Regions from separate parts of the Homo sapiens genome. Here region 2 is linked to region 1. The links come from fine-mapping of genetic effects on gene expression. A gene starts in region 1. The other region holds a variant in brackets. All regions are shown on one strand. Distances are from middle to middle. Region 1 holds the start of PAM (peptidylglycine alpha-amidating monooxygenase). Region 2 overlaps PAM (peptidylglycine alpha-amidating monooxygenase).

Region 1 (8,341 bases):
CAGTAGTATCAGCATAGTTGTGCCAATGTCCTGAAACTCAGTTCCCCCCATGTGATGTGAAGCAGATACTTGATGATCTGCATTGTCAGAGGGGAACCCTGAGCTTAGGGTACTTGAATCTTTTAAACTGGACAGTAAAACCTACCTGCCCTTTGCTTCAGAGGGAAAGAATACCTCTATCTTCCAAAACTATCTACCATACAAATGTCTTTAAGAGAGTCTGGGATGAAAGCAGTAAATGCCTTTGCTCACAAGACATGCAAAAGTCTGAGTGACTAATGGAGAATTGAATCCCAACATAGGGGTATCATACATATCTCTGAAATCCACTCATCTCCCACCTGCTTGAATACCTTGCTTTTAGCCACACTTAATTTCTTCCTATGACCACGGTAAGCTTCCAAATGGTTATCTTTCTTCCACCACTGCCTCCTCCCACTCATTCTCTATACAGTAGCTAGACTGCATCTTGTAACACAAATCTCATCTTGTTTCAGTCTTCAATGTCACCCACTGTCCTTAGAATTAGGCCACCCCTCCTTAGCAAGTTCCACAAAGCCAGTGCTTCCCTTGCTTGTCCGTTTAAGGTTTATGCCTTTAGCCACATTAAACTCCTCTCAGTTTCTTACATGTAGAGGTCATAAAGTGGTGGCCCTAGGTTGAATTCCAACTACAGATTTGTCTGGTTTGGCCCACAGAATAGTTTTTAAAACATTTGGGTTAGTTCATATTTGGGAGATTTCATATTTATAAAATATGAATTTTAAGCTCCTCTTTAGAAATCAAGGCATCTGGCAACACTTGGCCTGCATCCCAACCTGACAATACTTGGCTGAAATGAGTATCTACTTTTCCCTTTAGACAGCTTGGATTCTCCAGATTGCCACGCCTCTCCCTCCTGCTCTTACCTATGTATTGTTTAACATTTTCTGCCTGACTTCCATTCTAAGGCATCATGCTCCCTTTGGTCTCTTTCAATCTTCCCACCTCTTCAGCTGCTAACTACCACTCATGCTTCAGGTCTTCATGTATTCATGCTGCTAGGAAGTTTTCCTTCACCACCACCAACCCAATTAGGATGAGATGATGCACTGTGTGACATTCACCTACCCAGGACCCTGCTATCCTATCTTCTGAGGTTCTCTTCACTACCCTTATCATGGCATGAATCATATGGCATTATAATTTTTTAAAAATTTTCTTTATAAATTTATAATTCTCTGTTTACAGATCTGCATCCCTCTCTAGACCTTTCAGTCATAAGAAAGTGACTATAACTGTCTTGTATACCATTGTATGTCAGTGCCTAGGAAAAAGCCAAACGTTTAGTGTGGGCTGAATAAACACTTGTTGCATAAATGAATGAAAAAAGTTAGCTGAGGAATGGCTATTTCAAAATATTGGGGAAGAGTGTATTTATATTTTTATATATGTATTCATTTTTAAAATGTGGACCACTGAAATTCCATTCCTTCCCCCCTCCCCCTACCCTGGAGAAACTAAAATAACTACTTGAGTCATAGAGCAATAGCTGTATACTGGCAATGTGCTAAGAACCACACATGGATTAGCTCATTTAATGCTGACAACAGTCCTTTCAGGTTAGTATTTCATTATTCCCATTTTGGAGAGGTAAACATTCAACCCCAGATAAAATGAAGGCCTTATTCTCCACAACACAGTAAATTGTAGGGATACATGATGACTGAAATTTCTGCCAGGATACCTGAGAGCACATGACACCAACAGCAGCTTTATTCACAGCCCATCTTTTGAGCTATTTGTATGTGGTTTTAATAATTAGCTTTCGCATTCAAATGGTAAAGAAAGTTCTTATACACACAAGAAGCATTTATGGCTATTATACCAGATGACACGGCTTCCAGGGCAGTAAGAAGGATCTTTAATCTCATTTCACAAATAGAAAAACAAAGGTATGGAACAATAAAGCCAAGTGTAAAGTTAACATTATGTCCCTCAGGCTGCCCCTCAGCCTGCCATGCCTTAATGTGAGAGTCCAATCAAAGCCTCAAAGCCCAGTATGTAAAGCCTAATAAATTCTGCACATAGCAGATAGATAAATTCTTCCTAGGAGGAGGAAAAGAATCAGAGATGTCACTGAGTCACACAAAATACAACCTAGACAGAAAGTCAAGATCCCTGGTCAATCTTTTCCAGGTGGAATTCTTGCTCATTCTTTGCCCCAAGAAAAAAAAAAAAAAAAAAAAAAAAAAAAAAAAAAACAAAATTCTAAGTCTTTTTTTTTTTTTTTTTTGAGACAGGGCCTCTCTCTGTGGCCCAAGTTGGAGTGTGGTGGCATGATCACAGCTCACTATAGCCTCAACCTCCCAGTTTCAAGAGATCCTCCCTCCTCAGCCTCTTGAGTAGCTGGGACTACCGGCGTGCACCACCACACCTGGCTTTTTTTTTCTTTTAATATTTTTTGTAGAGAGAAGGTCTCACTATGTTGCTGGTTTCAAACTCCTGAACTCAAGCAATACTCCCGCCTCAGCCTCTCAAAGTGTTGGGATTACAGGCATGAGCCACCACACTCAGTCTCACCAAGTCTCGTAACTTTTAAAGTCAAATTTCCAGAGTCACTTCAGGACCCACCAGGCCTTAAGGTCCAGCTTATTAAAAATCTTACATTAAATCTCTGTATATTTTTTCTAGGCATTATAATTTCCTTCCTCAAGGAGTTGAGAAAAAAACTGTATGTGGGAACCACAACATACAGTTGAAGGAAGTTAGAATTAAAATTTCTATAGCTTTTAACATTTGATTAGCACATCATACATGTGTAGAATGTTTTCCTAAGCTTTCATTCTAAAAACACAGAATTCATTTTATTTCCAAGTGCACCTTGATGAAGTAGGAGCACATGGCATTTTATTTTAGAAAGCAATGTCTTAACAAACTTGTTATTTCTTCCAATTATGCAAACTCACCAAATGATTTTTTATCTATTTATTTATTTAGTTTTATCTTTTTTTGAGAGAGTCTCACTCTGTCACCAGGGCTGGAGTGTGTGGAGTGATCTCAGCTCACTGAAACCTCCACCTCCCAGGTTCAAGCGATTCTCCTGCCTCAGTCTCCCAAGTAGCTGGGATTACAGGTGCCTGCCACTATGCCCAAGTAATTTTTTGTATTTTTAGTAGAGATGGGATTTCACCATGTCGGCCAGGCTGGTACGGAACTTCTGACCTTGTGATTTGCCCGCCTCGGCCTCCCAAAGTGCTGGGATTACAGGCGTGAGCCACCGCAGCCGGCCAAATGATGATCTTAAAGGGCCTTTGATAATGCATTCTTGACCTCATTCTACTTGCCATGTATAGTCATTAGAAGACTGTTCATATAAAAATATGAAATAAAACTACATAGTCTTTAAGTTACCTTGGAAGGCCCTTCAGGACAAGGAACATACTCTATATCTTTATATCTTTAAAGCATATAGCAGAGTGCATCGCGGAATGAAAATGCCTATTAAGTCAGGAATGCAGGAACGACAGGGCTTACCATTTAATATCAATTCTAAAGCTGATTATTTATTTTTGAGACAGGGTCTTGCTCTGTCACCGAGGCTGGAGTGCAGTGGTATAAACACAGTTCACTGCAGCCCTGACTTCCTGTAAAGCTGATTTTTTAGGCCATTTACTTGCTTTATAAAGTAACTAGAATGGCATGAACTATGCTTTTTTGTGCCTGTGATTATAAACTGAAAATTTACAAACAATATGTCACATGTTATTTGAGCTAAATGTCTGATTTTACTAAAATGAAAGTATCCTTCCTGGATTATTAGAATTAGCAGTAAATTTAAGTTTGCACCTAGAAGAGAAAAGCGATTGTAAAGAATGTAAAACATCTGAAGCAAACAAAGTCCAATAAGATCTTCCTTCTACTTGAATTTCTATGACCACAAAGGCACAGGATGTAAGGTCCATAGCTTTGTACACAGGGATTGGTGGGGACGACACGATTTCAACTCTGAACCCCAATGACCAGCTCCAGGAACACATGCCTTTTAGCCCCGCAAAGCTACTGACCAAATCACCCAGAGAGATAATCACATCTCAGCCAAAGGACCTGAACTCAGACGATCAGAACACAGGACCTGCCATCAGGCAGCTGCACGAGACAAGAGACCGTGCTCAAAATCACGTAATACCCTAAGTCATCCCAAGGGAGCCCCACAACTACCCTCAGCGGCAGGCAGAGCTGACGCATATTTTGCAGATGACAACATACAGGTTCCGATGGGGCGGGTCCCAAGGCCACAGAGCTGGGAAGGTGACTGAACCTAGACTTAACTAGTATCCCAAGTGGTGGATACTTCCCATTCTGCCTTGGAGATCGCCCTTCGCCCGCGTATTACATTCGGAGGCTGGCAAAACGGCAGGAAGAGAGCAAAGCTGGGCAAGGACGGGAAAGAAAGAGGGGAAGGAATTTCCACTGCTTCCCGGCACTCGCCCCCACTCCACACCCCAGGTTGCTACTCCGCGGCGGCCTCTACTTCCCCAAACTAGACTGAAGGGCGGGCGGAGAACCGAGGAGGCTTTCTAGGCGTCACGGAGAGTTCTCCAAGTTGGGGGCAGAAAAGGCGAATGAACAAATTGTACCCCCTAGGGAGAGGGCACAAGGAGAAGTGCGGAGGTGAGAAGGACCGGAGGGGAGGACGACCCCTCACAAACTGGCCAGGGACTTAATAATGGTGATGAAGGGTCGTGAGAGAGGTTTGGGAAATGCGAGAATAGCTCAGTCCCCAAAATCCTCCCTGGCCGCATCGCTGGATCCCCGCCCCATCCCCCCACCCCCGACCCGGGCAGCCCGGGAGAAAAAGCAACAACCTCCTGGGGCACCAGGAATTGGTGGCAGCAGGATCCCGAGCCCAGGCCCCCTTCCGCGCCCCCACCCTCACCCTTGCCCTGACCGCCTCGCAGTGGCGGCAGCAGCGGCAACAACACCAACCTGCGCGACCACGGGCTCTGTCCGGGACGGAAGCCGGAGCCTGCGGGCGGCGGAGCGGCGGGCGGAGTTAGTTGGAGGCTCCGGCTCCCTGGGCGGGGACAGGCTGAGCACGCGGAGGCAGCGGCGGTGGCGGGGGCTCCCTCTCCTCGGCGTGCGCCGGGCCCAGCCGGGTCCGCCGCTCGCCCTCGACTCCTGGGGCAGGTCTCAGTCCCTCCCCGGGGGCGGCTCCCGGGCCAGCCCCGCGCTCGCCTCCTCCACGCCGGCGGCCTCTGCTCCGCCCTGCCTCTTTGGGCGCAGGGGGCGCGGAGCTTGGGAAGTGGAGCCCTGGCGAGTCCCCAGCGATTGCGCGCAGCTTCCCGGGGTTTCCCTGCGGGGGTCGCGTGTGCTGGGTGTCTGAACTCACGCGCGGGCCAGAGGTAGCCAAGAGCTGGAACTCTTGCCCAAGTGCCCCGGGGAAGGGAGTGAAGGCCCGGCCTGAAAGTCTCTGACCCTCCCGAGTCTCGTGTCCCTAGAAGCAGCCTTGCGAGGTGGCCACGCCAGCTGCCCTGAGAGAAGCAGAGGAAAATGTCCGACTCTCCCTCCGCCCAGCTTCGCGCCAGAAGAACGTTTCCCGAGAGAAGGAAGGACCCATTGACCCCCAGCCCTTGCTCCAGCCTGGAGACCTGGCTGAGTGCATGGAACTGGAAGGATGGCAGAGTACCGGGGCTGAAAGCCTGGGAAATGTGCTATTTCTATTCACACCACCCCCTTGCCCGGCCCCTGGATTCAGGCCACCTCGCTCAGGTCTGCGCAGTGCTTCCCAGTTCACACCTCCGACCCGAGGAGGGAGGTCGGTATCCCTTTCTTAGCCTGGCTTCCCGCCTCCATCTGCATCCCTTTCTGCTAAACCTTTTTAACCCGCAGAGTGCCCAGCGCGCACACACCGATCACTTCGCCCCTAAACTGCGGGCAGGGAACTCTGGAGCCACCCACATCCCCAGCCTCACCCCAAAGCAAGAGAAAGCAGGGAGCCGCGCGTGGGGTGGTGGGGGCGGGGCTGGAGAGTTCCAGTAGGAAGGTTTTATACCCAAGAGGCTTGATGATGTGCAGTACTGACCCCACACACAAATTGATATGCGTTTAATTGAAGGCAGGTATTTGCCACTGTCTCTCCCTGTCTGCAGGTAACCGCTTGAGTGCGTTCACCTCGCCTCTTCCATCCCCAGCGCCAGCCCAGCCCCCTCTCTTTCTCCCAGAGTCCCATCCTCCTCTCCCTCACCTCTCCCATCCCAGCTCCCTGCAGCGCGGGTCCCGAGCTGCTCCAGATCCCCAGCACCCAGCTCTGGTCTTTCCAGACAACTCCTCCCCTTCAGAATCTGGTGTGGTAGCAGGGAGGTTGTGAGAAGGGACACTGAGGAAGATAAAGAAGGAGAAGCCAGTGGACTGGGAAGAAGGTAGGAAAGTGCGAACCGAAGGGGTACACCGGAGAGGAGCTATGGGAAATGAGGCAAAGCCTTCAGGCTATAGGGGGATTCCCAGAAAGAAAATCATTTTCTCCATAGGGAAACTACCGATGCTCGCTGTAGACCAGTTGGAAAATCTGTTGTACACCCTCCCAACAGAATTCCTAGTGAGCAGTGGCCAGACTGGTCAGGGCCTAGAGCATGTGTCCAGGAACTCCATCCACTTCCCAACCCAAATTCCAAGGCAGGCGGATGACCCTCATTTTGGAAACTTGATTCTGAGAAGGTGCGAGAAGACACCGAGCTGAGTCTGTTTACGGATCCCGGGCTGTTCTTCATCTTTAGGCATCTCCTAAGTCACTTTATCTCTTCCTCCTGGTCTGGGTTGTTAAGGAAAGCAAGCACTTGAGACCCTCCCTCAAATACGTCTCTCCTCTGTGTGTGTGTGTGTGTGTGTGTCACAGAGAGAAAGTTTGTGGTGTGAGAGAGAGAAGAAAATGTGGAGGGGCAGGAGTTCTAGGCTATGGTGTTTTGTTTCTCTTTGTTTTCTTTCTTCAATTCAGTACATTTTTGTGCCAAGATGATTTTCTTGTTCAGTGGTGACTATATTTTTGCCTTAAATGTGGGAGAGTAGTTGGGACAACACTTCTAAATGTAACCTGACGGTAACCTCTCACACCCTCAAGGTCCTGGTGTGTCTGGAATTGGTGAGTTCTTGGTCTCACTGACTTCAAGAATGAAGCCGCGGACCCTCTCTGTGAGTGTTACAGTTCTTAAAGGCAGCATGTCTGGAGTTTGTTCCTTCTGATGTTTGGATGTGTTTGGAGTTTCTTCCTTCTGGTGGGTTCGTGGTCTCACTGGCTCAGGAGTGAAGCTGCAGACCTTCGTGGTGAGTGTTACAGCTCATAAAGGCAGTGTGGACCCAAAAAGTGAGCAGCAGCAAGATTTATTGCAAAGAGCAAAAGAGCAAAGCTTCTCCAGTGTAGAAAGGGACCCCAGCGAGTTGCTACTGGGGCAGCCTGCTTTTAGTCCCTTATCTGGCCCCACGCACATCCTGCTGATTGGTCCATTTTACAGAGAGCTGATTGGTCTGTTTTACAGAGAGCTGATTGGTCCGTTTTGACAGGGTGCTGATTGGTGCGTTTACAATCCCTGAGTTAGACACAAAAGTTCTCCAAGTCCCACTAGATTAGCTAGATACAGAGTGCTGATTAGTGTATTCACAATCTCTTAGCTAGACATAAAGGTTCTCCAAGTCCCCACCAGATCAGCTAGATACAGAGTACTGATTGGTGGATTTACAAACCTTGAGCTAGACACAGGGTGCTGATTGATGCATTTACAAACCTTGAGCTAGACACAGAGTGCTGATTGGTGTATTCACAATCCCTTAGCTAGACATAAAGATTCTCCAGGTCCCCACCAGATTAGCTAGATACAGAGTGCTGATTGGTGCATCCACAAACCCTGAGCTAGACACAGAGTGCTGATGGAGCAGGGGGCAGCGCTAGTCTAGGAGGCTTGGGGAGGTTCGGTAGCGCAGGAGCCCACAGCCTTGGGGGAGGCTCAGGCATGGCGGGCTGCAGGTCCCGAGCCCTGCCCCGCAGGGAGGTAGCTAAGGCCCAGCGAGAAATCGAGTGCAGTGCCAGTGGGCCAGCACTGCTGGGGGACCAGGCGCACCCTCCGCAGCTGCTGGCCCGGGTGCTAAGCCCCTCACTGCCCTGGCGGGCGAGGCCGGCCGGCCACTCCGAGTGTGGGCCCGCCAAGCCCACGCCCACCCGGAACTCTAGCTGGCCTGCAAGCGCCCTGCTCAGCCCTGGTTCCCGCCCTCGCCTCTCCCTCCACACCTCCCTGCAAGCTGAGGGAGCCGGCTCCGACCTCCGCCATTGCAGGAAGGGGCTCCCACAGTGCAGCGGCGGGCTGAAGGGCTC
Region 2 (8,341 bases), 26 kb before region 1:
GGCTCCAGGATCTGTGAGCTTACATGACACAAAATTGCCTCCTTTAACAGCTGAAATGTGAAATGTATTCTTGCTTGTGTCCTCTCAGTTCTTTCTCTGAAAATGAATGTGTTCACTGTACACTTGACCCAAGAATGGAACAGTAAATTTACAAAATGCAAACTTTGCTTTACCATAATTCTGCTAACATATTCCATAAATTCTAATAATTATTAAAAATAACTTCATATAAATGATCCAATGTAAGAGATTATAGTTTGTGTAAAGTTCAACATCTTTGGCTCAATTTGAAATAAAACGAACATGTTAAAAAAATAATTTAGTACATATATAACCACTTGAATGAATGATTTTTAAAAAGTTAAATACAATGGTGAGAACTTCCAACACCACTCCTTACTCCCCATTTGTTTCCAAAGTTCCAGAAACCAAATTTCCAACGAGACAAAAACATCTCTTACTAGATGCTTGAAGACACCTTATATTCAATACTTTTATGGTTTCCCCCAACTTACACTTTCTAAACACATTTCTGCCTTGTTTCATGATGTCACTTAACTAACTCAGAAAGAAATTATATTTTCTTTGACCTCACTCTCTCCCTCAACCTCTTCAAGCCAATCAGTCACCATATTTCACCATTTCTGTTTTTGAAACATCTCCTGATCCCACCACCTTCCTTCCTTCCTATAACCACCACTCTAGTTCTTATTGCCATCTTCTTACCTCCACATGATACTTCTAAAGGTAACAGCTCTAACAGGTTGCCTTACCCTCTGGTTTGTCCCTTATTTATTCAGTCTCCCACGTATCTACCAAAGTTCTTTTGTAAAACACAAAAGTACAAAGCTTTTTAAGTTTCCAATTGTTTATAACAGAGGTTCTCAAACTTTAAAGGGCATGAGATTCATTTGAAAGGCTTGCTAAGATACAGATTGCTGGGGACTCCCCCCTCCCTTTTCTTATTAAGTGAAACTGGGAAGGGGCCCAGATATCTGCATTTCTTACTAGTTCACAGGTGGTGTTAATGCTGCTGGGCTAGCATCACTACTTTTTAGTGTCCCAATCAGTGCTGTGCATTAAAACTACTTGGGATACCTATGTAACAAACCTGCATGTTCTGCACATGAATCCCAGAACTTAAAGTATAAAAAAACAAAGAACAACAACAAAAAAGTCTATTTGGGGAAGTTTTATAAAATGACTTGCTGAATCCTAAACCAATTATATGCGGGCATTGCTTTTTTGTTGTTTTTAATCCTCCAGGTGATTCTGATTTCCTAAAGTATGGAGAATCACTGGTGTTTAGTAAAAAGTTCCAAATCCTTAACATGGCATTTAAGACCACTCACCTGGTGTTTATGCACTTGCTTTGCCTAAAAATTCCTAGTAAACGAATAACAACAATAATAAAGTTTGCCTATCTAAAAGCATGTATTCCCAAATGATTTTGTGTGAATTAAATGAGATAATATATAGTAAATGCCCGCCAGTGACTGACACAAAGTCATGTTTCACATAAATGTTAACATCAATTCAATTCAACAAATACGTTGAGTATATTTTTAATTCAATTCTACATATATGTATGACTCACCCTTAATATGGAAGAGGCTACATTCTCTGCTGGGAATATCTGGTTAGATAAGACAGAGATGGTACCTGTCCTCAGAAAGTGAACAGCACAAAAGTAATCAGAGTTTAAGGTAATGAATACCAAACGTTAGTGACTTTTGTAATAAGTACTGTACAAGGAGGAGGACAGGGTCATATGAGAGCTTACAACAGTGATACCTAAATTTTTCCAAGCTTACGGTGCCAAGGAAACCTGAAATCTAAGGTGTGTGGGTGCAAGGGGGGAAACTGAAAAGCGCATTCTAGCCCACCAAAACAGCTTGACCCAATAGCACATAGGCAGGAGCAGCTTAGGTGTGCTAGGGACAGAAAGGCTGGTATGATTGGAGCTTAGAGGTTACACAGGGAGAAGAGGAGCACCAGGTAAGAACAGAGAGAAAGATGGGGGTAGATCAGCCGGGCGCGGTGGCTCACGCCTGTAATCCCAGCACTTTGGGAGTCTGAGGCGGGCGGATCACAAGGTCAGGAGATCGAGAACATACTGGCTAACACGGTGAAACCCCATCTCTACTAAAAATGCAAAATATTAGCTGGGCGTGGTGGCGGGCGCCTTTAGTCCCAGCTACTTGGGAGGCTGAGGCAGAATGGCGTGAACCCTGGAGGCGGAGCTTGCAGTGAGCCGAGATTGCGCCACTGCACTCCAGCCTGGGTGACAGAGCGAGACTCCACCTCAAAAAAAAAAAGATGGGGGTAGATCATGAAGAATTTTGAACTTGATCCAAGAGGAGAGGGAAACCATTCAAGTGTTCTACAATTAGGTCTTCCTGAGGCTGTCACCCTCCAGCTGGTATGCTCCCTGACGGCAGGCGCTGGGTTCTATTCATCTTCCCCTTTTCCATTCTAGTTAAGTGGCCCTCATACTGCTGCATGCACATCCCAAGGGATACTCAAAGACATTCCAGTATGCAAACTGGCACAGAGGTAGTTTAAAGAGAATTAATTTCTAGATCTTTGGTCTTCATATATATTCGTTCCTAAAATTGTACTGAGACTGAATTTGGAATCTGCAAATTATTTTCTCCCACCCAGGCCTTCAGGCTTAGTTTTACTATGAACCTTGTCTTACGGTGGGAAAACTTCAGTGGGGACCAAATAAAGGGATGATTCCAAATACTGGTGTTGGTATTGAAAAAATCAATGATTCTAGGCAACACCTTCTATTGCAACTCAGATGAGTTTTAACCTTTGCTTTCACTGAAATTGAAGACAGATCTAAGCAATGGTCATTTAAACTAATTTATGGTGATAGAAAACTGAATCATATTTGTCCCAGGATATTCTGGACATAATCAAAATTATTTATTGTTTATTTGAAATTCAAATTTAACTGGGCATCTCTATTTTTTTTTTTTTTTTGCTAAATCTGGTAATACACCCACATTTTCATTTTGAACTGGGCCCCACAAACTGTGTAGCTGATCCTGGTCATGACAACAAATATAAACATTCATTTCATGAGAGAAATAACTGGGTAATTATATATGCCACCAGCTAAGATCATACTCAATGAAAATACCTCTTATTTGAGTTTTTTTTCTTTCCTGCCCTTGCAACCCCACACAGAAATACACCCTGACATACAATTTTCCTGCCAAGTTTCCATCTTCAAAGTGTAAAAGTGGTACTGCCAACTGGGAAATAAAAACTTGAAAATGAA[A/G]GGCCATTAGCATCTCAGATACACCAAAAATATGGGGAGTATAATAGAAGGAAAGAAAACTTTGAAAAGGCAGATTTTTCACAAAAGCAAAATTTCTCAAAAAAAAAAACTGATTGACAAAAAAGCCAACATGTTGCCTGTACCAGTTTCACCAGTAATAAATAAAATTACACACACACACACACACACACACACACACACACAGAGAGAGAGAGAGAGAGAGAGAAATGGAGAAAGGAAGGGAGCAAGTGCTCTGGGTACTTAACTGATTCTGACTTTTCCACTACCTGGAACTTAAGAACCAAATATTGACTTTGGGAATATCTCTAAATCCTATGACGTGATTTTCACTTTCAAATATTATGTTTGAAAGATTTGCATGTACTTCTCACTTCTCAATAAACATAGATGTTTTCCTTTCAAGTATCTTTCTAAAACAAGAGCCAAGTTTTTTCCTTCTCCTCTATAGCTGTCAATCATATTTATTATTTGTATCTATTTCAAACTCATTTTGCAATAAAGGATTTCAAAATCTTCTCTCCTTCCTCTGGGGGGAAAACAAAGGGTGAAACAAACAAGGAAGATGACTTTGTATAATCCTTTCAATTTAGATCTGGATTCGTTCCGGCTATGAACTTCATACCAGAGTTCTGCTTTAAGTGCTTCAGATATGGACAAGATGAAAGAAGCTCTTATATCCTATAAAGAGCAAATTCACCTTTGGTGTAAATGTTGGAGAAGTGTGAGGTATGATTTACTCTTTGAAGAAAACATAATGTGTTCTAAAGTGTTCAGGTTTGAAATTCTCCAAATGTTGAGCTCCTAGGAATATCCATTTCATGAGCAAGGATACAAAACCAATCCATCCTTATTCAGTTCAAAGTTTAAGGCTGGAGTAAGTAGTGGACAAGAACACGGATGTGGACTGCAGACTGGCTGTTTTCAGATCGCAGACCAGCCACTTACCCTTACGACCTTGGGCAAGCTTTTTTAAGTTCCTGATGCCTCATTTACATAAGGGAGATGATTATAACAGTATCTGTTTTCATAGGGTTGTTATAAGCATTAAAAACGTGTAGTTCTTAGAAGAGCACGGCTAATCCACAAGAAGCACCATGTAAATTGTTGTTATTACATTAGTATTAAAAATATTTCTGGGCTTAATCTATGAATGCAAGTCCCTGTATATAATAACTGACCTTCTCACTTATTTTTCCTGGCATGCATTCTAAAGATCAAGGTTTTAAAGAAAAATGTTATTTTGTCTTTTATTTCCTATCAAGACTTAGAGCTTGCAGAAAGCTAAAAATATTTTATAAATATAGCCTGGCTGAGCAGCACTGCAATGTGGTAAAAGGAACAGCACAGGGGACACCAAAGCCATGCATTAAAGTCCTGATTCACAACTAAACTGTGAACTGCACTTTAGCATTTAGGTTTTTACTCACTTGTAAAATGAGAAGGTACCCACTGAATTTCTATTACTTCTTACAAAACTAAAATTCTGATTTTGTAACCTTTAACATGAATGTCAAACTTGTCAGAAAGGAATTCAATGAACTCTTACTTGCCAAAGGACCTTCTTGGAATAGTCTTTCTTGAAATTCTAGTTCTCCTATGCTCTCATACTACAAAATTTATCACCCTATACTGTACATAATTTCAACCCTTCTAAAGCCAGGCAATAATATAATCCCAGTGTTAAATGACCCAAAAAAATGAGTAATTATTAAAAGCTTTTCTTACTGGCTTCACCTGGCCCAAAAATGTTAGCAATATCTACAAGTATTGTATGCAATGTTTGCATATTAATCAATACTGTATCATTCTCATGACAGATTTTTGGAGCTGATAGAGATCTCAGAGTAGTGCTTTTAAACCTGGGGCAACTTTACCCTCCAGGAGACATTTGGCAACATCTGGAGTCATTTTTGGTTATCACAACTTGAGGAGTACACTGACATCCAGGGGGTAGAAGCCAGAGATGCTGCTAAACAGCCTCCAATGCACAGGACAGCCCCCACAACAAAGAATTACCTGACCCAAAATATGAAAGGAGAAAGAAAGAAAGAGAGAGAGAGAGAGAAAGACAGAGAAAGAAAGAAAGAAAGAAAGAAAGAAAGAAAGAAAGAAAGAAAGAAAGAAAGAAAGAAAGAAAGAAAGAAAGAAAGAAAGAGAAAGAAAGAAAAAGGTGCTGAGGTTAAGAAACCTGCCTTAGAGCAATGATTTTTCATGGGATGCAGTACTGCCCCCTAGTGTGAGATTCAGAAATCTGGTTGTCAGGGCTGGTGTGGGGAGAGCTGCCAGCAAGAGTAGGCAGGAGTTCAGTCGGGAGGTACACCATGCAATGTGCACGACCTTTTTTTAATGAAGTACGGCACCACATCCTACTTAACTCTCAAATGTCCTACAAATCACATAGGTAATAAATGTCTTTATGATGAGCTAAGCTTACGACCCAAATCCATTTTACATAAAAACACAAGTATTTTTTACATGGTTTAAAACCCCTTATGTTTAGAAATGAAGTTACTACATGAATCAAGAAAGACAATATTTAGTTTTATTTGAAATTTTGCCAAGAATTGCTCATCATTTTGGAAAAATCACATCACCAACAACAATGCCAATGGTGGTACAGTAGTCTTCCCTGATCCTCGGGGCATATCTTCCAACACTCCCAGTAAATGCTTAAAACTGTGGATAGTGCTGAATCCTATATATGCTATGTTCTTTTAAAATTTGATAACCCAGATGGCTAACAGGTGAGGTGGGTAGCATATGTAATGTGGATACAGTGGACAAAGAAATAATTCACATCCTGGGTTGGATGGAGCAGGGGGCACACGTTTTCATCATGCTATTCAGAATGGTGTACAATTAAAAACTTATAAATTATTTGTTTCTGGAACTCTCCAAATTTTTGGACCATAGTTGACCAAGGGTAACTATATTAGGATTCCCTGGAGGGTCAGAACTATTAGGAGATATATACATATATATATGTGTGTATATATATATATATATATATATATATATATATGTATATGGGAGTTTATTAAGTATTAACTTACATGATCACAAGGTCCCACAATAGGCCGTCTGCAGGCGAGGAGCATTGAGAGCCAGTCCAAGTCTCAAAACTGAAGAACTTGGAGTCTGATGTTTGAGGGCAGGAAACATCCAGCATCCAGCATGGGAGAAAAATGTAGGCTGGGAGGTTAGGCCAGTCTCACCTCTTCACATTTTTCTGCCTGCTTTATATTCACTGGCCGCTGATTAGATTGTGCCCACCAGATTAAGGGTGGGTCTGCCTTCCCCAGCCCACTGACTCAAATGTTAATCTCCTTTGGCAACACCCTCACAGGAACAATACTTTGCATCCTTCAGTTCAATCAGGTTGACACACGTATTAACCATCACAGTAAATGAAACCACAGATAAGGGGGGGAATACTTTATCTGAGTGGTCAATATAACAAAGACATCAATCTGCATTTGTAGCTGTCACACATACTGTTATTCTACATATAGGATCAAGCTTTTGAACACTTCATTAGGTCTTATGGTGTAATCATAACTAAACATTTACATATTGAATGAAATACACATTATCTTATTATAAATTACTTATTCCTGTATTGCTCTTTTATATTAAAGTTAGGAATTATATATATACATATATATATATACACATATATATACACACACATATATATGCATATTTTTGAATTACACACTTAGGCAGGTTATATTACACATAAATTTCATTTCTTGGTAATAAAGAGGGCACTGCAAAACATATGCTATGAAAAAGGAGACACTGGATCCAATAGGGTTGAGAATCTTTGTATTATAAAGTACCTCACTCAATTCCTTCACTTTGCAGAAGACAAGTTAGAGGCACAGAGAGAAGCCCATCAGGTTTTCTGACGGCAAATCCAAGGAGTTTTCCACAACAGATAATTCTATTCTATTCTGATCTTATATTCATACTATTAGTAGATCTCTGAGAATTAAGGACTGCCTGATTCAAATGCACACAAAGTATTCCCTCCAAAAACACAAACGGGTAAACCTGACCTGTATAGCATCTACATATAAAATATTACCATGGGAACCACGACAACTACAAACTGAGAAAACTGTCATCACCAACCCACCAGAAAACTAAGCTTCGTTCATTTGGTTGCTTGTCTATGCAATCTTCCATGTAAAAATGAAGTGAATGAAAATAAAAATGACTCATTTCAGAGGTTTCTAATTTGGTAAGATTTAATCACCACAGCTCTCAAGTTTCCTCTGGAACAAAATGCCACAGACCAGGCTTTGGAAGGAAAACAATAATAATAATCTACTTGAGCAGTCCCATGATTCATTTTATCCATCATATGGGGTCTAGTTTTTATTTCATTCTAAATGCCAGGGAGACCAAATGCCAGTTTTGATTATTCTGAATCCTTAATATGATTTTTGGTAATGTTACAGTCTCCTTCCTGAAACCTTAATTTTTCCTCTTGTTTACTTGTCAGGTAAACATTAATTGAATGCTCCTTGTCTAAAATACTATATAGAATGCTCTGGGCAATTTTAAAGTAAAGACAAACTGTTTGCCTTTGACAATGTTACCATCTTATGGGGAAGATAGAACGAATATAAACATATAAATACAAGTATAGGGCAAAATCAAGGACCATGCAGAAGTGCAAATGCAAGTATTACAGGGGAACACAAATCAACTCTTCAAAAAAATACATGTGGGGAGGTGAGAGGAGAAAGGCAACTCACCCGCCTCCTTTTTAATTCTCTATGGTGCAGGCTTTCTCCTTTAATTTTTTTTCTGTCTAACAGGGGTCCAAGAGGTGCTTACTTGATCTCTAGCAGGCTAACCCCAAGACGGCACAATGCCATTCAGGTGTTTTCCACAATTCCGCCTGCAGAAGGAATGATCGCAGGTCTCTCAAGGGCAAACCGAAATTTGGCAGGTGACCTTTCATTTACAGCATCACAGAAGAAAAATACATAGAACCACCCCATGTTAATCGCTAAT

The links. PIP is the estimated chance that this variant, and not a neighbour inherited with it, causes the effect.
Region 2: its variant is fine-mapped to the expression of PAM in whole blood (INTERVAL, PIP above 0.99).

What each region holds. Positions count from the first base shown.
Region 1 is chr5:102,751,976-102,760,316 of GRCh38, reverse strand. It overlaps PAM (peptidylglycine alpha-amidating monooxygenase), which reads right to left and starts at 5,012. Exons shown (of 26, transcript NM_001177306.2): 1 at 4,969-5,012. RefSeq lists enhancers at 4,289-4,378, 3,950-4,450, 5,458-5,983 and a silencer at 4,769-5,318.
Region 2 is chr5:102,777,881-102,786,221 of GRCh38, reverse strand. All of the region lies in intron 1 of PAM (peptidylglycine alpha-amidating monooxygenase), which reads right to left. Among named protein-coding and RNA genes, the nearest start is that of PAM, 27 kb to the right of the region's middle. The variant A/G (reference allele first, on the strand shown) is at 3,293.